6 linked regions of the Homo sapiens genome follow. The protein of the gene in region 6 purifies or fractionates together with the protein of the main gene of each other region. This does not show direct contact. Each region holds a gene or a part of one and is shown on either strand. Other genes may lie near its edges. The genes, in order: EDEM1, NBAS, OSBPL5, GUCY1B1, ANKLE2 and OR1M1.

Region 1 (3,887 bases), on a different chromosome or scaffold from region 6:
GTTTTGGTTTGGTTATGCATTGGTTTGGTTATGCGTAAGTTAAGGTCAGGTTGCTTTGAGACAGATGTGTTATTGGAAAGAGGGTTTTAGAAGTATTGAGGAGGTGGGGATGGCATTAGGGAAGGGTTGTGCCCTGAGCTGGGTAGGCCCGTTGGTTGGTAAACCTTTGTTGTCTTTGAGGAGGCCAAAGAAGCCTTGCATGGACGCCTCACACTTGCCACTTACAAACAGTGGAAAACTTAATTTTTTGTACTCTCCTTCCTTTAACTCCTCTCAGGCTTTGCTTTTTTTTAAATATTTTTTAAAAAAATTTATTTTTAATTTTTGAGGATACACAGTAGGTGTATATATTTATAGGGTACATGAGATATTTTGGCACAGGCATGCAATTTGTAATAATCACATCATGGAAAATTGGGTATCCAACCCCTCAAGCATTTTTCTTTTGTGTTACAAACAATCCAATTATACTTTTAGTTATTTTAAAATGTACAGTTAAATTATTATTGACTGTAGTCCTCCTGTTATGCTATCGAATACTAGGCCTTGAGGAAAGTTTAAAACCAGAGTATTGTCATGCTGGCTTTGAAACAGGAGGGTACTTCACATCCCCAAACTAAATAATCTGTAATAAAAATTTTTCATATTTTTTGTTTGTTTGTTTAATTGACAGGGTATTGTTCTGTCACCCAGGCTGGAGTGCAGTGGCATAATCATTGCTCACTGCAGCCTTGAACTCCTGGGCTCAAGCAGTCCTCCTGCCTCAGCCTCCCGAATAGCTGGGACTAGAGGTGTGCCCCACCATGCTCGGCTAATTTTTTTTTTTTTTAATTTTTCTGTAGAAGTGGGGTCTTACTTTGTTGCCCAGGATGGTCTCAAACCCCTGGCCTCAAGCAGTCTTCCCGCCTTGGCCTCCCAAAGTGCTGAGATTATAGGTGTGAGCCACCAAGCCCAGCCAAAAATCTTTCAGATTTTAAAAAATCAAATGTATTCTAATGACTCATTTAACAAGAGTGAATTTGCCATTAGAGTATTATATAAAAAGTACACATAGAAAATTTCGGTGCTAAACACTCTTACCGTTTCTCTGTAGTCATATATGCTCCAAACTTATCTTGCCTCAAGTACATGTGACTTGTTCTTGGGGAGGTATCAGGTAAGGAGTTAACATGAAGTGAATAAAACCTGAACACTCTAAAAAGAGCAGATCTGTCTAAGATAACTATGCAAAGTCAGTTCTCACATCCTTAATTTGGGTTGGAGGATCCAAATTTAAAGTTTCTTTGAGTAAATGTGGATATTATATTTTTGTAATCCTGTGAATGGTTAACTGTAGTTCTGGCTTTTGGGCATGTGACCATTCTCAATTTCTTCTCAACTGTATTGCTATTAAAACAACAAAACAAATCTCAAATTAAGCCAAACAAATATTGGCCCCTCAAATGCTTAGGTACTACTAGCTCAAGATGGCCTCCTCTGCATTCCTCTTTCTTTGGAAAGTCCTGCCCTCTTTCAGAGTCAGGCTCCTCTTGTTTCCGTGACACCATCTAACTGTTTGAAGATGATTTTCCTTTATTTGCTCAGTTCTTCTTTTGATTCCTTTCCTTTGAGCTGCGATTCTACATTTTAACCTTATTTGAGGATTGAGTACTGTTGTGTATTCACCTGCATTTCCCTTTGTCTTGTCTCTCCAGATTATCAATCCCTTGAACGCAGGGACTGTTTCTTATGTTATCTCTGTGCCTACACCACACCAGGTAGATTTCTGAACAGCTGTTACAGGTTAAGTATACATGGGAATTTAAATTTAAAAACACATATGTTTGATTTTGTTAGCTACATAATCAAAAATTTTCTATCAAAGGCCATGGTTTTCTCCATCTTTTCTGTTTTGAGGTGAACTTTAAAAATTTACAGTGGGGTGAATGCCATGAACATTTGTACCTGGTGAAGTAAGTGGAGCGTTTAGTTGTGCGGTTCAGCCAGCTGGTTACAGGGAAAGGTATTGAGTTCTTGCTGGATGAACTTAAAGGTATCAGGTTAGGCTGGAGATTGACAAGAATATCTACAAAGAACAAATCCAGAGTCTGAGCTGCATAGTGGGCTGGCATAAATGGAGTCATAATAATTTCATGCTGTTAGGCCAGTAGAGTTTTATGGTGTTTTTTTTTCTTCCTTCATCCTCACTCCCACTTCCCCCTTATTTTGGCACCTTTTGAAAGAGGATGTAGCAATTATTTGGTAAGAAAGAATTAAAAGTGTTCTAATGAGTAAATACCCCAGATCTTAGAGAGGATTTGTCTGACTAGAGTGGAGAGAAGAAACCCCACAGTTACTGCAAGTAATTTTTTTTTTTTTTTTTACTGTGGCAGCTCATTAATTTTTAGTGACTGGGCATTGTAAAAAATATTTTAAAACTGGGTCTATTTTAGTTATAGATTACAAGGCAAAGCACAATAAAACATAGAAAGGAGTTCAGTGCTCACAGTGAGTACCTTCCTTCCATGGGCCTGTGCAGGTGGATAGAATGACACATGCCGCAGATCTGGGTGTGACTCAGGAGAGGGGAGTTACATGTGGTTCTCCTGATTACCATCTAGCTTGGATGCTACATGATGAGGGAGCTGTTTTCTGATGAGGTGGGCTGTTGAAGCCCACTCTGTTTCTAAGCGGCAGAGCAACAGAGTGAAATATTTACACAGAGCAGAACATTCTTGAGTTGGCAGAATTGGGCGTAAGGATCTCCCTGTCTCCTTTGAGCCCCTCCTGCAACCCTTGCACTTTTTGTACCTTTTTTGGCTGTCACTTGCGCTTGAGAGGCATATTTGAATCCATAGCTCTTGCTTTGAGGGGACCTTTTGCTATTGTATAAGTTTATTTCCAGAAAATCAACAAATAGAAAAAACAGGTACAATTTTCCAGCCAAGCAGTTTTCTGACTTCCCAGCTTATAGGAAATGAGCTAGCCCTAGTTCCTAGACTATAGCCCCCATATATATCTCGTTTCAAAAAAACAGTATCTAAAATTTTTTTTTTTTTTGAGACAGAGTTTCGCTCTTGTTGCCCAGGCTGGAGTGCAATGGCATGATCTCGGCTCACCGCAACCTCCGCCTCCTGAGTTCAAGTAATTCTTCTGCCTCAGCCTCCCTAGTAGCTGGGATTACAGGCGCCTGCCACCACGCCCAGCTAATTTTTGTATTTTTAGTAGAGACAGGGTCTTGCCATGTTGGCCAGGCTGGTCTTGAACTCCTGACCTTGGATGATCCACCCACCTCGGCCTCCCAAAGTGCTGGGATTACAGGCGTGAGCCACCGCACCCAGCCTAAAATTTTACTATAAATTCTTTGCTTTAGATTAGATGGTGTAACAGCATAAAACAAGGCAACTGGAGGGTTCAAATAAAATGAGACATTGGAGCTGTTATGCCTCTTTCACATAAGCCCCATTTTCCCCAGCTGAGGCACAGGCCTTTCAGAGACCACAGCAAGCCATCACAACACGAGAGGTGCTGTGCACCAGAAGCTTCTCTGACTGGAAGGTGAGATAAGGACCCATTAGGGTGATCCGAGGAGCAGATGAAGTGCTTTGGGATATGATGGAAGACTGCAGATATCAATGCATCTTGCTGGAAATAAAACTGGAGCTTTTTTGCTTTGGTTGCTAATAAAATCTTTAAACAGTTGTCTTATGTCTTCTCTTACTATCATTTTTTCCAAGCTTCTGCACTTATTTTCTGGATTTTTGGGAATGGGACAAATAAATAAATGAAGTCCCCAGAATTTCTCAAACTGTCCTTTATTTTACTAGTTCTTCATCCCTATTCTCCCAGATGTATTAGTTTTTTTGTTGTTGACTTTTTTGTAAAGTGTTACAAAGACATACCACAGT
Region 2 (3,887 bases), on a different chromosome or scaffold from region 6:
TCATAGGGAGCTTATGATTTTTTTTGTTTTGTTTTGAGATGGAGTTTTGCTTTTTTTTGCCCAGGCTGGATTGCAATGGTGCGATCTCGGCTCACTGCAGCTTCTGCCTCCCTGGTTCAAGTGATTCTCCCGCCTCAGCCTCCCAAGTAGCTTGGGACTACAGGCACACAACACCACACCTGGCTAATTTTTGTATTTTTAGTAGAGACGGGGGTTCACCATATTAAAAATAACTGGCCGTATAAGTAGATTTCAGATACAACTCTAGAAACCCAGTGAAGATAGTGATTATTATAGATCTGGTAGAGATGGAAGATTTTATATAGTGAAGATGTTTGGAGCAGGGATTTGGAAGGATTTAAATTAGGCCTTCTTGAATGAGAAGGGAGGAAGACATTCTTAACAGGACAGATGGTATGAACAAATTAAAAGACACTGAGCATGATTTATGAGGCCAGTGACTAAATCTGTTTTATTCACTGCTATATTTCCATGTCTAGTTCAGTGGCTGGTGTGCAGTAGGTGCCCAGTAAACATTTTATGGATAAATGAGCTCTGTACATCAACCAGTTTGCTGGCACTGATATTTGACAATAGTGAACACTGGGAAACATGATTGAAAAGATATATTGATTTGAGTTCAGGAGGATGTGGAAAGCTTCTGATGACTTAGGCATTTATCTACTGTTGTGGATTTCTGACTGTGGAAGCAGAGGAAGATGGTGTAGAGAGAATTGGAGTGGAAGGAAGGTAGGAAACCTTGCTTGGGGCAGGGGACTCCTACAGTGTGCTAGATGTTTTGTGTTGATGATTTAGACTGGTATGGAGGCCGCAGCTGTGGAAAAGGGAAAGTGAATTAAGAGACATTTGAAGAAAGAACTGATGTGAGGCAATATATAAAGGATCCTAGGGAATGAGTCAAATCTTAATTAAAATTTATAACCATAATAGCTCTTTCTAGGAAGAGGGCAAGTCAGGGATTTTTTTTTTATTTTTTATTTTTTAATTATTATTTTACTTTAAGTTCTAGGGTACATGTGCACAACGTGCAGGTTTGTTACATATGTATACATGTGCCATGGTGGTGTGCTGCACCCATTAACTCGTCATTTACATTAGGCATATCTCCTAATGCTATCCCTCCCCCCTCCCCCCACCCCCCAGCAGGCCCCGGTGTGTGATGTTCCCCACCCTGTGTCCATGTGTTCTCATTGTTCAATTCCCACCTATGAGTGAGAACATGCGGTGTTTGGTTTTCTGTCCTTGTGATAGTTTGCTCAGAATGATGGTTTCCAGCTTCATCTATGTCCCTATACAGGATGTGAACTCATCCTTTTTTATGGCTGCATAGTATTCCATGGTGTATATATGCCACATTTTCTTAATCCAGTCTATCATTGATGGACATTTGGGTTGGTTCCAAGTCTTTGCTATTGTGAGTAGTGTCGCTATAAACATACGTGTGCATATGTCTTTATAGTAGGAAGATTTGTAATCCTTTGGGTATATGCCCAGTAGTGGGATTGCTGGGTCAAATGGTATTTCTAGTTCTAGATCCTTGAGGAATCGCCACACTGTCTTCCACAATAACAAAGACACAACATACCAGAATCTCTGGGACACATTTAAAGCAGTGTGTAGAGGGAAATTTATAGCACTAAGTGCCCACAAGAGAAAGCAGGAGAGATCTAAAATTGACACCCTAACATCACAATTTACAGAACTAGAGAAATAAGAGCAAACACATTCAAAAGCTAGCAGAAGGCAAGAAATAACTAAGATCAGAGCAGAACTGAAGGAGATAGAGGCACAAAAAAACCTTCAAAAAATCAATGAATCCAGGAGCTGGTTTTTTGAAAAGATCAACAAAATTGATAGACCACTAGCAAGACTAATAAAGTCAGAGATTTTGAATGGAGTTGGAGGAAATAGTTGGGAGGGAGGAATAGGACTTTGATCTTTCCAAAAAACAGCATATCATGACTTTTTATGATCAAGTTATTCACACCCTGGGATATATCTCATGGTCAAATAAATACAGAAATTTGATGGGCTCATTTGTTTTGTTTAAAAGTTAAACATGCTTATTAATTATGACAGAATATATCTTGCCTTTCTGCCTTATTGTCTGCTCTATTATACAGCCACGGTGCAAACCAAAGGCATTTATAAAAGTTAGGAGGAAACATTTTATATTTCCAAAAATGAGTCCTGAGCTTTCTGTTTCTGCGTAGCTCATTAGAGGAAGAAAGCAAGCAGGTCAACTCACACTCCCCGCATCCAGTTGTAGTCACCATTAGGCAACTGGCTGCTTTTCTCTTGAGTTCCTCTAGCAGCTCCCTATGGCCAAGGTCCTAAATAGCTGTAATACATCAGGTATAGCTTTACAATTCTGAAGGCAGTTGTAATGTGTTGTAAGATGTCATGGATTCTGTAATTCCTCTGTTTCTTCCTTTATATGCAGAGTAAAATAAAGAAGCGATCCTGGGTTCTCCATGAGTGTTTGGAAAGAGTTCCTGAAAATGTGGATGCTGCAAAAGAACTGCTTCAGTATGGATTAAAAGGCACAGACCTGGAGGCTCTTTTAGCAATAGGGAAAGGAGCAGATGATGGCAGGTTGGTTACAGAAAGAATTGGATTCAAAGTAAAGGTGACTTTGTGAAAACTTTTGTACTGAGACATTGGACTGGGTAAACTTTTCTTTATTTAAGTTATTCTGTACTGAAGCAGTTGCTTTTGATCAATACTGTCTTACCTGAAGTCATTGCTCATCAGGCATTTGGAACTTTTTAAAAAATATAAATATGAGAGTATATCTGAGAAGTAAATAATTAAAATGAGACTGACACTACCATTTGAAGACCTTAAGTAGAAGTGATTCAAATAGCAAACTCTGTGGACATTTTCAGCATAGGCTGCTTTACATTGAGTGAATGTAACCCCACATCTCTTCCTAAATAGTTTTCATTTTCTTGATTTTTAGATTTCTATTTGTAATAATTACTGATGACTTTTTGCCCATCTGTGGATATAATGAATGATCACTTTGTTTACAATGGCAAAAGTTTTTTTCAAATACTTTCTTCTGTTTTTGTGGAAATCAATAATGAAATCAGTCAAAATAGGAGAAAGCTTTTCACAACACGAAGTTTTTAAAAATGATGAAAATATATTTGTTCTTTTATACTTGCAGATTTACATTACCTGGTGAAATAGACATTGACAGTATCTCCTATGAAGAGCTTTCACCACCTGATGAAGAGCCTGCCAAGAATAAAAAGGAAAAGGAGCTCAAGAAGAGACAAGAACTACTGAAATTAGTGAACTTTTCCAAGTAAATGAGTTGTTACTGTTCATTTGATAGTTTCTTTAAAATAACTAATCATTTCAGTGTGTTCCTTACTAGTAATAATTAGTCCAAATTATTTTAGCAACTTAGATCAAATGTACTTACTATTATCTTACCCTTGTGCTTTTCTGAACTGTTTCATGAGTTTTGGGCTCAACGGAATATTAATCATTTTCATTATAACTCCTAGAGAAATAATTCTGTGTAAATATAAGTGGCCTAACATAGTTATTCAAAACAGGTTGACACTGGAACAAAAGGAACTTTGCCGTTGTAGACGGAAGTTATTAACCTACTTAGATCGACTTGCAACATATGAGGTAATGAATAATTTTTGTCAAACCAATTATGTTCATTTGATCTGTCATTATAAATGCTATGGCTGCCCTAATATCGGATATTCTTGGTCTTTAGAACTATTTTTCTGGGAAAAATTAATTTCTTATAGAAGCAAGTTCTCTTATATACTAGTTTTGGTAAAAATTAGAGATTGTGAAAGCCAGAAGTTGTTTTGTTAGACTAGGGAATAGAAGTGCCT
Region 3 (3,887 bases), on a different chromosome or scaffold from region 6:
GGAATCACAGGATCTAAGCTTCCGCTGGGTGACGGGTGCAGGCTGAGGAAGCCGGGCTCTGGGGTGGGGGCTGCGCTCTGGGGTGGGGGCTGTCAGGAACGGGGGGCTCTGTGATCTGGGATCTTGTCATTCTCACCCGGGAGGCGAGACAAGAGCAAGGCCGTGGCTGTCACTGAGGGCAAGGGGCAGTCCCGGTTTCAGCAGGAAAGGGGAATTCGTTCCTTGCTGTTGTTTGGACAGCGTCGTGTTCGCATCTTGCTCTGCACAGGGACAGAGGGGGCTCCTCCGTGGTCCGTGAAATCCTTGTGTTCAGTGGAACACCATGGCCTCCCTGCGGGCTGCTGTTCCCACAGAGCTCAGGCTCCTGTGCGGGGATGGGAAGGTTAGGATGGGCCTATGGGGAGTGGACCGAGGGCCCTGGGGGCCTCAGGCTGAGAGTATTGGGGAAGCCACCGGCGGGTTAGGCAAGGGCCTCGGGACAGCCGAGGGGCGGGGGTGGACACTGGGCCACCCGTAGGGAAGACCCATTGTTAGGAGAAAGCTGAGGACACCCTGGACCCAGCTGTGATGGAGAAGGGAGAAGTGGGCAGACTCAGGGTATTTCGGAAGTTGGATTGGGTAGATCTCAGCCAGATGGTGATGAGCGACGCTGCTGTGAGCCAGGCAGAGCGGGCTGCTGCAGGTGCGAGCCTGGGGCTCCGGGCAGAGGGCATGGAGCGGGCAGCCAAGGGGCCCGGGCACCCAACCTTCAGAGGCCGAGCACAGATAAGGCTTCACAGAGGTGGGGCAGGGAGGTGGGAGGATCCAGGAGCCCAGGTGTCTCAGAGCCAGCTGGTCCGAGAGGTGGGGCAGGATGAGAAGCAGGGATGGCTGCTGGACCAGTGAGGAGTGGTGGGGACCTACGGCAAGACAGTCTCAGTAGAGAAGACGGCAGAAGCCTGGTGGAGAGGGTTAAGGAGGACGGGACGGGAGCACATGGACAGAGCAGGATTCCTGACAGCCGAAGCTACCCATGATTTCCAAGCCCCAAAGCTACAGCACTGGGCTCCCCATGACCCCTCATGGGGTCAGACATGGCTCCTGGGTGTCCACACACACTGTCCACTGGGCCAGTGCCACCAGGATCTGTCCGTGGCCATGCGTGCACAGAGAGGCGAAGCCATTTGCCTGAGGAGTCCCAGCAGCGGGGATGAGATCCTGATGCAGGACTCACAGGCCACACTCCATCTTGCCCGCTCCCTGGGGCAGCTGCCGTTGGGCTAAAAATGCAGAGAGCCCTGAGTTCAGATCTGACCTCTGCCGCATAGCAGCCGTGTGACCTTGGACAAGTCACTTGTCCCCTCTGTGGAGGGGGAGGACCAGGGTCCCCGTTCCCTGGGGCTGCGGTGAGGTGCAAGTCTGGAGTGAGTAAGGGGAGCCCCGCCACCCCAAGTCATGTATTCTGGAGCTGTGGTGAGGGTTAGATGTCTCAGAAAAGGAAGAGATGAGGGGGCCTTCGTGAGGGGCACACAGGCTTCGGAAGTGAGGGGTGAGTTCACATGCCCGTGTCGGTTTTGCAGGAGCAGGCTCACCTCCAAACTCACCCAGTTGTCCACATTCAATATCTGAAGGCTTCTGTATATCAATCAGACCTCAATAAAGTGGTTCAAAAACAGAAAAAGAAATGTTACAATAACCTTTTTTAAAAAATGGAAGAGCAGGCCAAATCCCTGCCTCCCCTGGCAGCTGTGAAGACAGGGTGGGCTGCAGTCTCTCTGTTCCCTGGGCCCAGGGTCCCACGATGCACAGACAGGTTTCAACAGCAGGTGTTGGGAGGCTGCACCCTGGACTTTGAGGAGGGCAGGGCATGGGGTCCCTGGGCAAGGAGCAGAGACAGGAGCGGGCCTGGACCTGGGCTGCGGGTGCTCCAGGGGTGGGGTGGAGACGCATTGGGAAGAGTTCACATCTGATGGGGCTGAGTCAGCCTCATGAGGCCATGGAGGCCAGGTCAGGGGTTTACACCCTAAGGGGTGGCAGGTACAGCCTCCTCCAGCCAGAGCTGCCACTGTCCCGCCACCCCTTCCTCCCGGCTCTTCCGGGCAGGGCCTGACTGCAGCCTGTCTGCTGCAGCTGGGCGAGGCGTCCCAGGTGGAGACAGTGTCAGAGGAGAACAAGAGTCTGATGTGGACCCTGCTGAAGCAGCTACGGCCAGGCATGGACCTGTCCCGCGTGGTGCTACCCACGTTCGTACTGGAGCCGCGCTCCTTCCTGAACAAGCTCTCCGACTACTACTACCACGCAGACCTGCTCTCCAGGTGCGCGCCATGCCGGGAGGGGCACCCCACACCTCGTCCTGCATCTGCATGAGACCCTGCAGCACCCCCAGCCCCTACCTGCCCTGTGGGGGCTTCCAGAGAATCCCATGGCTGATCTCAGCCCACTGTTTCTGCAGCTGTAGCCTCCCAGGGGGCCCTGTCTCCAAGATGGGCCTGGGAGGAGCCAGCCATCCGTGGTGAGAGGGGGGTCAGTCCCAAGCACTTGCCATGCACCCTGAGCCCTGCACCCTCGAGCTGGATGGGATGGGCTGCAGAGGCAGGAAGGGGGCTGCAGAGGCAGGAATGGGGCTACAGAGGCAGGAAGGGGGCTGCGCAGACTGGAAAGGGGCTGCAGAGGCTGGAAGGGGGCTGCGCAGGCAGGAAGAGGGCTGCAGAGGCAGGAAGGGACTGCAGAGGCTGGAAGGGGGCTGCAGAGCTGGAAGAGGGTTGCAGAGGCAGGAAGGGGCAGCAGAGCCTGGAAGGGGGTACGCAGGCTGGAAGGGGGCTGCAGAGACTGGAAGGGGGCAACAGAGGCAGGAAGGGGGCTGCAGGCTCAGGAGCCAGGCAGAGGGAGCAGGTGGGAACAAGAGCATGGGCAGGGAGGCTTCCTGGAGACAGGGGCACCCTGGCAGCCCAGGTCAGCAGTGTCCTCTCTGCCCCAGCGTGGGAGCAGCCCTGGCACTTTCTGATTAGAAGAACCCACTTCCCCAGAGAAAATTATCCTGCTTGGGGGTGACCAGAGCGCCTGGGCCAAGTGGCCTGTTTCCAGCTGAGTGGTTGGAGGTCGGGATGGTAGGAGGGAAGGGTCAGGGAAAGGGAGGGTGGCCCACGGCCCCCGGAGCTGGGGTCAGCGTTCTCCTGCCCCATGGCAGGGCTGCGGTGGAGGAGGATGCCTACAGCCGCATGAAGCTGGTGCTGCGGTGGTACCTGTCTGGCTTCTACAAGAAGCCCAAGGTGAGCCCCTGCCAGCCAGGGAGGGTGGGGCTCCGGCCCAGGAGTCTGTCTGCTCAGCCCTCGTCCCTTGGCACTTCCCTGAGTCCCCGGGCCACCCCCTACCCCACATGGCTTAGAAGGATCCTGGTCACCCCCACAGAGGGCCCAGGTCCTTGGTGATGGGGGACAGGGCCCCACTTCCCACAGTTGGGGCCCTGGATGGCTCAGGCCGGGTCCCCAAGGGTGGTCTCATCCCTCAAGGCCCCAAGCTGGACCCCTTCCCCACCCCCCAAGAAAACAGCCTCAGGCCGTATTACAGATGGTGCCAAAAGAAAGGAGCTTTAAACCTTAAACCTCAAGGTACCTTTGGGATCTGTGGTTTTCATAAATTTTTAGCCATGGAAACCCCTTTTAGAACCCCAAACCCAGGACTCCAGTGACAGCAGGGCTGCTCTCGTTGTAGTGAGCAAGAGGGCCCGCAGCTCCCCTGACCCCACCACAGAGCCCTGGGGTTCCATGGGAAGCAAGTTTGAAAACCACGACCGTGGTTCCACTTCTTTATTGTGCAGATGGGGAAACTGAGGCTCAGGTGAAAGGATGGCCTGAGTCGTACAGCAGGTTTGGGGTAGAGGCAGGACTTCTGACTGCCTGGTGCCTTCC
Region 4 (4,678 bases), on a different chromosome or scaffold from region 6:
GACAACAAAGACTATAGCATTTCATCCAGCCCACTGTACTACATTCTTTCATAGACATGGAGATTTATCTACCTGTTTGAAATTATCTAGTCCGTTTCATGTACTGAAAGTCATGGGGATGAGAAAAAAACCTCTTGTACCTTCTAGTTTATTTTTTAAAACCTCTTTCATGTCTCATGTAAGTTACTAGATTCACATCTTTGAAATCTTCAGACTTCAAATGTTTCTCTTGAGATAGGATATTTCCCTGGGGAGATAGAGATTTCATGGAGGGCTTTTGAAGTTGTCCATAATATGCTTGAAATTCTTATAGACATCTCTTACGATGTTATATGATGACTCTACATTATTCTGTAATATAAAGTAAGCAAAAATTCATGTGTTACAGGAACAGAAAACCAAACACCACATGTTCTCACTCATAAGTTGGAGCTGAACAATGAGAACACATGGACACAAGGAGGGGAACATCACACACCGGGACCTGTTGGGAGTTTGGGGGCAAGGGGAGGGAGAGCATTAGGACAAATACCTAATACGTGCGGGGCTTAAAACCTAGATAATGGGTTGATAGGTGCAGCAAACCACCATGGCACATATATACCTATGTAACAAACCTGCACCTTCTGCACCTGTATGCCAGAACTTAAAGTAAAATAAAAAAAAAAAAATTCATGTGTTAGTGATCAAAATGATTGAAGCAAAGCTTTCTTTTTTGCAGATAACAATAGGGATACACACTGGAGAGGTAGTTACAGGTGTCATAGGACAGCGGATGCCTCGATACTGTCTTTTTGGGAATACTGTCAACCTCACAAGCCGAACAGAAACCACAGGAGAAAAGGGAAAAATAAATGTGTCTGAATATACATACAGGTGAGAGAAAATGTCTTGGTATTTACTGATTTGCAAAGAAAATGTGTCTTTGCATGTGGTTTAATTCTCTGAGAGATTTTGTTGCTTTAACAGAGTTATCACCTTCACTCTTCCCCACTGCTTGTAGAGTTGTTTACTTTTTATTTGAGAAGATTGTGTCATTATTTCCATTTTATATGATTTCACATCATCTTAGGAAATCCTGATATGATCATTGTTTCTAAAGCTTTGAGTTACCTTTCAGTACAACTTCAGCATTTGTTCTTGCCATCTTGGTTTATAACATGATACATGTCACCTTCTCTATAAAACTTGTGTATACTTCTCTCTCTACTCCCCTTCCCTTGTCTTTTAGATGTCTTATGTCTCCAGAAAATTCAGATCCACAATTCCACTTGGAGCACAGAGGCCCAGTGTCCATGAAGGGCAAAAAAGAACCAATGCAAGTTTGGTTTCTATCCAGAAAAAATACAGGAACAGAGGTATGACTAATCAAAGTGTAATTTGCGTACTTAAGACAGAGTATAAGTATGGAAAACTAAAGCAAAATCACTGAAAATGTATTTCATTTGAAAAGAATTCTTGCTAACAGAAATTAACTTCTAAGTAAAGCAGTGGAAATAATTGAACATTAATGAGCCAATTACAATCATAAGTACTTTTTAGGGGATACTTTAGTGATTTTTGTCCTCTAATGAAATGAAAACCAACAGACTGGATTGAGAAGGCTGCTTTTTTTCTTGCTGTTGTGGTTGTTTTGCTCTTCCTCTGTAGTCTGGCTCAAAGGTAAGTGGGCTGTGAGGGGCTCCCCTGACCCCTTTCCTCAGCTCTCTAAGTTGGCTCTGAGATCACCACAGATAAGGGCTGTGGTTCATGGGAGGTTTCTTAACCATGAAGCTTAAGATCCTTTTAAGGGGCAGGCTATCTTTCTATGGAGTGATTGGGGAATTTTGGAAATCCTAGTCCCTCATGTGTTTCTCCTAGATAGATGAGTGATTTTTAACTTGCTAGAATCTGATTAATTCCTTAGGGAAGATTTAAGTTCTTTCTACTACTATGGTTATACTCCAGGCAGAGCCCATGTGCTAGAATGGACTTCAGAACAGTGGCACATCCAAAGTGGAATCACACCTCTCATAGAGGCCTTGCACACACTAAGATCATGGCTAGCCTCTTCCTAGCCTTTTGTAAGGAGTGGCATCAGAAGCAAGTTTGATACTTTGTTACCCTGTTGATGTGTTGTTTCCTCATGGGGGATAAGACTGCATGCTCATATTTCTCTTTTAGTGTGTATAAACTCTCTAAAGATGCTTTTAGGGCATAACAACTTCTAAAGGGAATAGAATGCCAGGGTTTGAAATATTTATCTTCTTTCACCTGGTTTAACATTAAATCATTTTCCTATGAGGTGGACATGCTTATTGATGTTCTTCTGATAAACTAAGCCGTAATTACCTCAAACATTGGTCATCTTAGTCGTGCGGTCCTGTTTTTCCCAGAATTATGGTGGGAATGATTTACAGAAACTGTAGATGTGAACGTGGATCACACTCTCATAAAGAGAAAAATATATTTAATTGATATTATAAACCTCACTATCACTGTAAATCAATCCCTCTTTTCTTCTGCCTATTTAAGGAAACAAAGCAGGATGATGACTGAATCTTGGATTATGGGGTGAAGAGGAGTACAGACTAGGTTCCAGTTTTCTCCTAACACGTGCCAAGCCCAGGAGCAGTTCTTCCCTATGGATACAGATTTTCTTTTGTCCTTGTCCATTACCCCAAGACTTTCTTCTAGATATATCTCTCACTATCCGTTATTCAACCTTAGCTCTGCTTTCTATTACTTTTTAGGCTTTAGTATATTATCTAAAGTTTGGCTTTTGATGTGGATGATGTGAGCTTCATGTGTCTTAAAATCTACTACAAGCATTACCTAACATGGTGATCTGCAAGTAGTAGGCACCCAATAAATATTTGTTGAATTTAGTTAAATGAAACTGAACAGTGTTTGGCCATGTGTATATTTATATCATGTTTACCAAATCTGTTTAGTGTTCCACATATATGTATATGTATATTTTAATGACTATAATGTAATAAAGTTTATATCATGTTGGTGTATATCATTATAGAAATCATTTTCTAAAGGAGTGAATTCTAAGTTTTAGGGGAAAAAATGCAATTTATTTTCAGACTCCCAAAGTAAGAATTAACATATCATGCTAAGAAAATAGTGACTATTTTGAAGTATGCTACTTCCCTTTCAGAAATATAGAATACACGTTTCTGTTATTAAAGTATTTGATTACTAATTCAAATCATATGGCAATTATAATTCTTCTAAAATGCTATCATTTGTAACTGTATCCCCTGTATTAAATCTCATTAACCACAGGCAGCTGTTACAGAAAGCTGCATTGTTTCACATTGAGCTGTTACATTAGTTCAGGCTAAATGTTGGGAGCTCCAACCACATCCAAGAATAAATCTGGAAACACACTGCTGGGATACTGCTGTTAGAGCCCTTCTTGGCCTTGTATTCCCAGAAATGAGCTCCCTTTCCTTAGCTTAGAAGAATGTGATTATATCCAGGACATCATGTTCAGAAAACTTAGTTTACTTTCAGCATAGAATGCATTACTGTTGGAATAATTGGCCTCTAGCTCTTAAATGTCTCTGATAACTTATTAATATCTATCTTTATAAAATAGAGTGCAACTACTTTTGTGTAAAAATGTTTGCCTTTAAATTTAGTATTTCATATCAGCACATCGATATATGTATAAATGTTCCATGTTAATGTGTAAAAGAGTCTGTAATAAATTATTTTTTTCACGTGTCTCTATACAGTTTTTATTTCAATAAAAATATTAACATTATTTTTCATTTTATTAATGCCATTATTTTGTAAATACATTTTACAATTTTGCCTATTTGCTACCATTATAAATTTTCACTGACTCCTCATAGACAGCATATTCTTAAATGCTATATTTCTTTTTAATACCAACAGAGTGACAGGAAATAAAGACTGGGCATGGAAAGGGGAAACAGTTAAATATTGAATGTCATCAGCTTATTTAAAGAGCTCTGAATCATTTAGGGATGATAGACATGTATACAAGTAATGAAAATATGCGATATTCATAATGAAGAAATATATTCAAATGCAGAAATAATACTTAGAGAAAGAGTAACTTGAAAGAAAAGAGGTGAAGTGGGGATAGTTGTTATGCTTATTTTGGGGGGAGAGTTAGGAATACTCAGAAACTACATTGACACTGTCATCTTCCCAGAATCCTGCATATATTTATTTAGCATCTACTTTGGGTAGGTACTGCTCAAGATATTTGAGAAATGTCATTGAACAAAACATCTCTGCCTTTGAATACCTCATATTCCAATTTTTACATCTTGCATGTTTTTAAATCTCTACTTTATTCCGCCAACACTCTTCGAAGTCCAGGCACTCATCATGTGTAACTTGAACAATTGCAAGATCTTCCCTATAAATCTGTCTATTTCCTACCTTTGCCACCTCCATTCCACACTCTCAAATTGCTGCCAGAGTGGTCTTTTACAAATCCAAATTGCTCTCCTGCGTACAATCACTTAAATGCTACTCATTGTCTGTACACCTTAGCAAAGCATGTAAACATTGTCACCTTAACCAGCCTTATCTGCTAGTTGCTACCTTTGTAATTCTATGCTCTGCTCTGTCTGAATACCCTCTACCCATACTCTGCTGCAAATTCATTTCTTGCTAAGACTCAGCTCAATATCCTCTTGTTGGAAAT
Region 5 (3,887 bases), on a different chromosome or scaffold from region 6:
GCTTTGGTACTTGAAGCTTTAGTGGCTTTTTTCTGTGTAGTTCTGAGTATTTTTTCTGGTTTCACAGCTGGTTAATTGTGTTTTGTTTCTTACAGGGAGCTAGCTCATGAGCTGGGGTATCCCTGGGTTGAATACTGGGAATTTCTGGGCTGTTTTGTTGATCTGTCTTCCCAGGAAGGCCTGCAAAGACTAGAAGAATATCTCACACAGCAGGAAATAGGCAAAAAGGCTCAACAAGAAACAGGAGAACGGGAAGCCTCCTGCCGAGATAAAGCCACCACGTCTGGTAAGCATGTGCAGGCGTGGCTGTGGCAGCTGGGAGGGGCCCCCCATGGCCGGGGTCTGACGGGATGCGCACATCTGTTTCTCGTCTCTTGGTGTTTTTAACGTAAAGGTCTGGTACTTTCCCTTAGGTTAGTATTTTTTGAGACGGAACCTCTCTTTGTTACCCAAGCTGGAGTGCAGTGGCGCAATCTTGGCTCACTGCAACCTCCACCTCCTGGGTTCAAGCGATTCTTCTGCCTCAGCCTCCTGAGTAGCTGGGACTACAGGCGCCCGCCACCACGCCTGGCTAATTTTCGTATTTTTTTTTTTTTTAGTGGAGATGCGGTTTCACCGTATTGACCAGGCTGGTCTCGAACTCCTGACCTCGTGATCCACTAGAGTGCTGGGAAGGTTAATGTTAAATGGGTTGTGTGTCGGGGAGGGTACATGAAAAATAATGGCATCGCTTTGAGCAGTATTGCTGTTTCTGCTTGTGTTTGCATTATCCAAAATCTAATATAGTTTCATTCTGTGCCGTTTTCTCAAAACTCATAATAGCTGAACTCCATTGGCTGAGCCTGATATTTTAGATTTGGTATATTTTCAGGAAAAAGACGAGTGCACATCAGAATACTGGTGTATATCAGACACCAGGGCACGAAGCGCCTTGCACGGTGCGTATCAGACACCAGGACGCAGAGCGCTTCACACAGTGCATATCAGACACCAGGACGCAGAGCGCTTCACACAGTGTATTTCAGACACCAGGACGCAGAGAGCTTCACACGGTGCATTTCAGACACCAGGATGCAGAGTGCTTCACACGGTGCATTTCAGACACCAGGATGCAGAGCGCTTCACACGGTGCATATCAGGCACCAGCACGCAGAGAGCTTCACACGGTGCATATCAGACACCAGGACGCGCAGTGCTTCACACGGGGTATATCAGACACCAGCACGCAGAGAGCTTCACACGGTGCATATCAGACACCAGGACGCAGAGAGCTTCACACGGTGCCTGTCAGACACCAGGACGCAGAGCGCTTCACACGGTGCATATCAGACACCAGGACGCAGAGAGCTTCACACGGTGCACGTCAGACACCAGGACGCAGAGAGCTTCACACGGTGCATATCAGACACCAGGACGCGCAGTGCTTCACACGGTGCATATCAGACACCAGGACGCAGAGAGCTTCACACGGTGCATATCAGACACCAGCACGCAGAGAGCTTCACACGGTGCATATCAGACACCAGGACGCGCAGTGCTTCACACGGTGCATATCAGACACCAGGACGCAGAGAGCTTCACACGGTGCGTATCAGACACCAGCATGCAGAGCGCTTCACGGTGCATATCAGACACCAGGACGCAGAGCGCTTCACACAGTGCATATCAGACACCAGGACGCAGAGCGCTTCACACAGTGTATTTCAGACACCAGGACGCAGAGAGCTTCACACGGTGCATATCAGACACCAGGATGCAGAGCGCTTCACACGGTGCATTTCAGACACCAGGATGCAGAGCGCTTCACACGGTGCATATCAGACACCAGCACGCAGAGGGCTTCACATGGTGCACGTCAGACACCAGGACGCAGAGAGCTTCACACGGTGCATATCAGACACCAGGACGCGCAGTGCTTCACATGGTGCATATCAGACACCAGGACGCAGAGAGCTTCACACGGTGCATATCAGACACCAGGACGCAGAGAGCTTCACACGGTGCGTATCAGACACCAGCACGCAGAGCGCTTCACGGTGCGTATCAGACACCAGGACGCAGAGAGCTTCACACGGTGCGTATCAGACGCCAGGACGCGCAGTGCTTCACACGGTGCATATCAGACACCAGCATGCAGAGAGCTTCACACGGTGCGTATCAGACACCAGCACTCAGAGAGCTTCACACGGTGCATGTCAGACACCAGCACGCAGAGAGCTTCACACGGTGCATATCAGACACCAGGACGCAGAGAGCTTCACACGGTGCGTATCAGACACCAGCACGCAGAGCGCTTCACAGTGCGTATCAGACACCAGGACGCAGAGAGCTTCACACGGTGCGTATCAGACACCAGGACGCAGAGAGCTTCACACGGTGCGTATCAGACACCAGGATGCAGAGCGCTTCACACGGTGCGTATCAGACACCAGGATGCAGAGCACTTCACACGGTGCGTATCAGACACCAGGACGCAGAGCGCTTCACACGGTGCGTATCAGACACCAGGATGCAGAGCGCTTCACACGGTGTATATCAGACACCAGGACGCAGAGCGCTTCACATGGTGTATATCAGACACCAGGACGCAAACGCAAAGCGCTTCACACGGTGCACATCAGACACCAGCATGCAGAGAGCTTCACACGGTGCATATCAGACACCAGGACGCAGAGCGCTTCACACGGTGCATATGAGACACCAGGACGCAGAGCGCTTCACACGGTGTATATCAGACACCAGGACGCACACGCAAAGCACTTCACACGGTGCATATCAGACACCACGATGCAAAGTGCTTCCAAAGCACAGATGCACTGAATGGAAAGAGCATGATGGAAGAGGTTAATCTACAAAATCTAAAAGTGATTCATAAAAACATCAACGATGGCCGGGCACGGGAGCTCAGGCCTGCAATCCCAGCGGCCGGGCGTGGCGGCTCACACTATAATCCCAGCACTTAGGGAGGCCAACGTGGGTGGATTGCTGAAACCCAGGAGTTCGAAGGCAGCTTGAGCAACATAGTGAGACTCTGTCTCTATTTATTTTTTTAAAAAAACAGAAATTTGCTAATAACTAGAGATTCGAATCTGCTAAAATACAAATTAAAGCAGATATACAGTTTAAACTGTGTGTGTGTGTGTGTGAGTGTGTGTCTGTGTGAGTTTGTGTGTGTAAGGTCATAATAGAACCATTAGCCCGCAAGACACTTCATTTATAAAACAAACTCCCTGGAATGATAGAAAATGAAAATGATTGACATACATTAAACTAAGAAGCAGTGAATCTTCAACAGTCACGACCTGTGACTCTGAACCACAGAACTAGAGCGACGTCAGTGCCGTCGTTATACAGGAATCATTGAAGTCTGACCTTGCTGTGTTGTAGCTGATGGTGGCACAGAACTCACTTCTGTAAAGCGGCCTCATTTACAGTGTTGTCTTGTGACTATGTACATTTTAATTAGTAAATATTAAATAAAGTTGAGGCATTTCCTAAGTAGCAGGAGCCACAGCTCAAGTGTTCTGGATCCTCCTGTGGCCGCGGCCACCATCGTGAACACCAAACGGGACATTTCTGTTGCCTGTCGCACAGTGCTGCGCCCGGGAGCTCTTCTGTGTTATCTTCACACCTAAAGCGCAGCAGGGTTACTTCATGGAGTTGTTCTGGACGATCTTCGGGATCCTCTGGGGCACTGTGACACTCGGAGCCCCTGGGGTCGCAGCAGATCGGAGCTGGAGGGTGGCTGGGGGTGCAGGGCAGTCATCTCGCCCATCACCTGGGCTGCCCTTGGCGTTTTCATGTCCCTGCCTTTGAAAGAAAAGTCAGCCTGGCAGCTTTATTTCCCTCCTCGTCTGAAATAGGGTCTCACTCTGTGGCACAGGATG
Region 6 (3,441 bases):
TGACAGGGAGATGGTTTTGGAAAGTTAGATGCGATCACATCCCAGTTCTCATTTGGGCTAATTATGAGACCAGATGTGTATATATATATATGTGTGTGTGTGTGTGTGTGTGTGTGTGTGTATATATAGAATATATATGTGTGTGTGTATATATATATATATAGAGAGAGAGAGAGAGAGAATATATGTAAATATATTCCACACATGTACGGTGTTGTAACTTTAGAGACCCTGTCTCTAAAATAGAAATATTATATATATTATTACATATTATGTATATATACATATATATATATTTTTGAGACAGAGTCTTGCTTTGTCACCCAGGTTGGAGTACAGTCGTGCAATCTCTGCTCACTGCAACCTCTGCCTCCTGGGTTCAAGTGATTCTCCTGCCTCAGCCTCATGAGTAGCTGGGACTACAGGTGCCCACCACCACGTCCGGCTAATTTTTTGTACTTTTAGTAGAAATGGGGTTTCACCATATTGGCCAGGCTGGTCTCGAACTCCTGACCTCGTGATCCGCCCACCTCGGCCTCCCAAAGTGCTGGGATTACAGGCGTGAGCCACCACGCCAGGCTAAAGATATTATTTTTTAGAGACAGGGTCTTGCTGTGTCACCCAGGAGGGAGTGCAGTGGTGCAATCATAGTTCATTGCAACCTTGAACTCCTGGGCTCAAGCCAGCCTCCTGCCACAGCCTCTCTAGTAGCGGGGTCTACAGGCACACACCATAAGTAAGCCTGGCTTATTTATCTTTTCTTGTGTGTGGTGGAGACAGGATCTTGCTATGTTGTCCAGGCTGGTCTTGAATTCCTGAGCTTGAGTGATCCTCCCATCTAGGCCTTCCAAAGTGCTACAATTGCAGGTGTGAGCTACCGCACTTGGCCTGACAACAGCTTATATATAGGTTGCACTTTAAACCATGGATGAAGTATTTATAGCAACTCTTCTTCTTTTTTGATTAATTAAAAAATGTTAGGGCCAGGCACGATGGGTCCCATCTGTAATCACAGCACTTTGGGAGGGCGAGGTGGGCAGAGAGCTTGAATGCAGGTGTTCAAGAGCAGCCTGAGCAACATGGCAAAACCCCTTCTCTACCAAAAAAAAAAAAAAAAAAAAAAAAAAAGCCAGGCATGATGGTGGACACCTATAGTTCCAAGTACTCGGGAGGCTGAGGTGGGAAGATTGCTTGACCCTTGGAGCAGAGGTTGCAGTGAGCCAAGATCACACCACGGTACTCCAGCCTGGTGACAGAGCAAGACTACATCTCAATAACAACAACAATAATAATAGGGTTATACAAAGCATTCTTTCCCTCTTTTCTTTCTTCCTGACATGGCAAACTCAACATATAAAAAAATAAAGTCTATTTTCTCCCGGAGCCACTATGTCCATGAATGGAATCACCATCCTTCCAGATACCTGTGTTTGAAATTTTCAGTCTTCCTCCTTTCTACCTCCACCGTCAAAGGCAATCCATCAATGAGTGTTACATCCTCTACAAGTCGAACTTCCTTCCTTTGTTTTTTTTTTTCCTTTTGAGACGGGGTCTTGCTCTGTTGCCTAGGCTGGAGTGCAGTGGCACGATCTTGGCTCACTGTAATCTCTGCTTCCCAGGCTCAAGCAATTCTCCTGCCTCACCCTCCCAAGTAGCTGGGATTACAGGAGCACGCCACCATGCCCAGCTCACTTTTGTATTTTTAGTAGAAATGGGGTTTAACCCAGCTGAGTATCTGGACACTAAAATAAAATAGCAACGTGCTCCTTAGTTCACATCCAACAGCTTTATTCTTAGCATGTGTGGCAATTCTTGATTAATTGGAATTAAAATAAACAATAGCACCTGTGGTGCAAATACTATTTAAAAAAAAAAAAAGAAATGGGGTTTAACCTTGTTGGCCAGGCTGGTCTCGAACGCCTGACATCAGGTGATCCGCCCACACTTGGCCTCCCAAAGTGCCGGGATTATGGGTGTAAACCATTGCTCCCAGCCTGAACTTTCCATTTTTTATTTTATCTATTTGTTTTTTTTGAGACAGAGTCTCGCTCTGTCACTCGGGCTGGAGTGCGGTGGCACGATCTCGGCTCACTGCAAGCTCCGCCTCCCAGGTTCACGCCATTCTCCTGCCTCAGACTCCCGAGTAGCTGGGACTACAGGCGCCCACCACCACGCCTGGCTAATTTTTTGTACTTTTTAGTAGAGACGGGGTTTCACCATGTTAGCCAGGATGGTCTTGATCTCCTGACCTCGTGATCTGCCCGCCTTGGCCTCTCAAAGTGCTGGGATTACAGGCATGAGCCACCGCGCCCGTCCTGAACTTTTTATTTTTATAGTCATTTCCAGTCATCTCCTCTTTCCAGACACCCTAAATGAAAGGCTCTTATTACTTCTGAGTTGCCAAGTTCACTAATCTTAAGCTAGCCTCATGCATCCAATTATCTTCCTTTGAAACAATCCTGAAGTCGGCCGGGCGCGGTGGCTCATGCCTGTCATCCTAGCACTTTGGGAGGCCGAGGCAGGCGGATCACCTGAGGTCGGGAGTTCAAGTCTAGCCTGACCAACATGGAGAAAACCCGTCTCTACTAAAAATACAAAATTAGCCGGGCATGGTGGCGCATGCCTGTAAACCCAGCTACTCAGGAGGCTGAGGCAGAGGTTGCAGTGAGCCCCGATTGCGCCACTGCACTCCTGCCTGGGCAGCAAGAGCGAAACTCCATCTCAAAAAAAAGAAACAATCCTGAAGTCACTAAATTAATCTTCCTGCATTACAGTTCTGATCATGTTACTTTTATATTTTTATTTTTTATTTTTGTGATTTCTAATGAACACCTTGCAGATGTCACTTTTATTCACTCACGCATTCGTTCATTCATTTTGTAAAAAATTATTGGTAATTGCAATATATAGTGACAGGATCTGGCCTGAGTTGTGGGGACAAATATATGAAAATACACAGACCCTGTCCTCAAGACATTTGAAATCAGGAATTGTTTGTCTTTGTTCATTTTTGTGACCAGCATCTTGTCTGGGATACAGAAGACATAAACATAATTGTTCCATATACGCATGAATCAGTGATGGTTATCCTGTATTGCCAGGCACTGATCGAAGGTCTCTGCTAATTTGCTACTCACGACAACAGAATAATGTTAGTGCTATTTCATGCAGGAAGAAATGGAAGCACAGAAGATTAATACAATCAAATGGGGTTTAACTGAGAGCAGGTGGCTGGATTAGCCCAAGCATTCTAAATCTAGAGCATGTACTCTTAATCTCTGTAATTCATGAAGCACGCATGGATTCATGAATTCACAGTTTAGTGAGGGAGATGAACTCCAGGCAGCATTTATCAGATTATGAGGAGCTTGGATTAATAGAGAATCACACCCCACACACAGCACCCCTGAGGATTGTAAGAGCACTCCGAAAACTGTTGAG

The links.
Region 1: the proteins of OR1M1 (region 6) and EDEM1 purify together in Homo sapiens (affinity purification with mass spectrometry; one large-scale study listed by BioGRID and IntAct). This does not show direct contact.
Region 2: the proteins of OR1M1 (region 6) and NBAS purify together in Homo sapiens (affinity purification with mass spectrometry; one large-scale study listed by BioGRID and IntAct). This does not show direct contact.
Region 3: the proteins of OR1M1 (region 6) and OSBPL5 purify together in Homo sapiens (affinity purification with mass spectrometry; one large-scale study listed by BioGRID and IntAct). This does not show direct contact.
Region 4: the proteins of OR1M1 (region 6) and GUCY1B1 purify together in Homo sapiens (affinity purification with mass spectrometry; one large-scale study listed by BioGRID and IntAct). This does not show direct contact.
Region 5: the proteins of OR1M1 (region 6) and ANKLE2 purify together in Homo sapiens (affinity purification with mass spectrometry; one large-scale study listed by BioGRID and IntAct). This does not show direct contact.

What each region holds. Positions count from the first base shown.
Region 1 is NC_000003.12:5,190,576-5,194,462, forward strand, and holds part of EDEM1 (ER degradation-enhancing alpha-mannosidase-like protein 1), read left to right. Parts: exon of another isoform or gene 1-1,728; coding exon of another isoform or gene 1,729-1,757; exon of another isoform or gene 1,758-1,782; intron 1,783-2,363; exon of another isoform or gene 2,364-3,887. UniProt on the Homo sapiens protein: Extracts misfolded glycoproteins, but not glycoproteins undergoing productive folding, from the calnexin cycle.
Region 2 is NC_000002.12:15,467,111-15,470,997, reverse strand, and holds part of NBAS (NBAS subunit of NRZ tethering complex), read left to right. Parts: intron 1-2,464; coding exon 2,465-2,616; intron 2,617-3,193; coding exon 3,194-3,334; intron 3,335-3,590; coding exon 3,591-3,669; intron 3,670-3,887. UniProt on the Homo sapiens protein: Involved in Golgi-to-endoplasmic reticulum (ER) retrograde transport; the function is proposed to depend on its association in the NRZ complex which is believed to play a role in SNARE assembly at the ER. Required for normal embryonic development.
Region 3 is NC_000011.10:3,102,600-3,106,486, reverse strand, and holds part of OSBPL5 (oxysterol-binding protein-related protein 5), read left to right. Parts: intron 1-2,109; coding exon 2,110-2,294; intron 2,295-3,166; coding exon 3,167-3,248; intron 3,249-3,887. UniProt on the Homo sapiens protein: Lipid transporter involved in lipid countertransport between the endoplasmic reticulum and the plasma membrane: specifically exchanges phosphatidylserine with phosphatidylinositol 4-phosphate (PI4P), delivering phosphatidylserine to the plasma membrane in exchange for PI4P, which is degraded by the SAC1/SACM1L phosphatase in the endoplasmic reticulum.
Region 4 is NC_000004.12:155,803,872-155,808,549, forward strand, and holds the end of GUCY1B1 (guanylate cyclase soluble subunit beta-1), read left to right. Parts: intron 1-721; coding exon 722-876; intron 877-1,231; coding exon 1,232-1,358; intron 1,359-2,514; coding exon 2,515-2,538; 3' UTR 2,539-3,940; downstream 3,941-4,678. UniProt on the Homo sapiens protein: Mediates responses to nitric oxide (NO) by catalyzing the biosynthesis of the signaling molecule cGMP.
Region 5 is NC_000012.12:132,730,784-132,734,670, reverse strand, and holds part of ANKLE2 (ankyrin repeat and LEM domain-containing protein 2), read left to right. Parts: intron 1-95; coding exon 96-286; intron 287-599; coding exon of another isoform or gene 600-655; exon of another isoform or gene 656-812; intron 813-3,887. UniProt on the Homo sapiens protein: Involved in mitotic nuclear envelope reassembly by promoting dephosphorylation of BAF/BANF1 during mitotic exit.
Region 6 is NC_000019.10:9,089,760-9,093,200, reverse strand, and holds part of OR1M1 (olfactory receptor 1M1), read right to left. Parts: intron 1-3,441. UniProt on the Homo sapiens protein: Odorant receptor.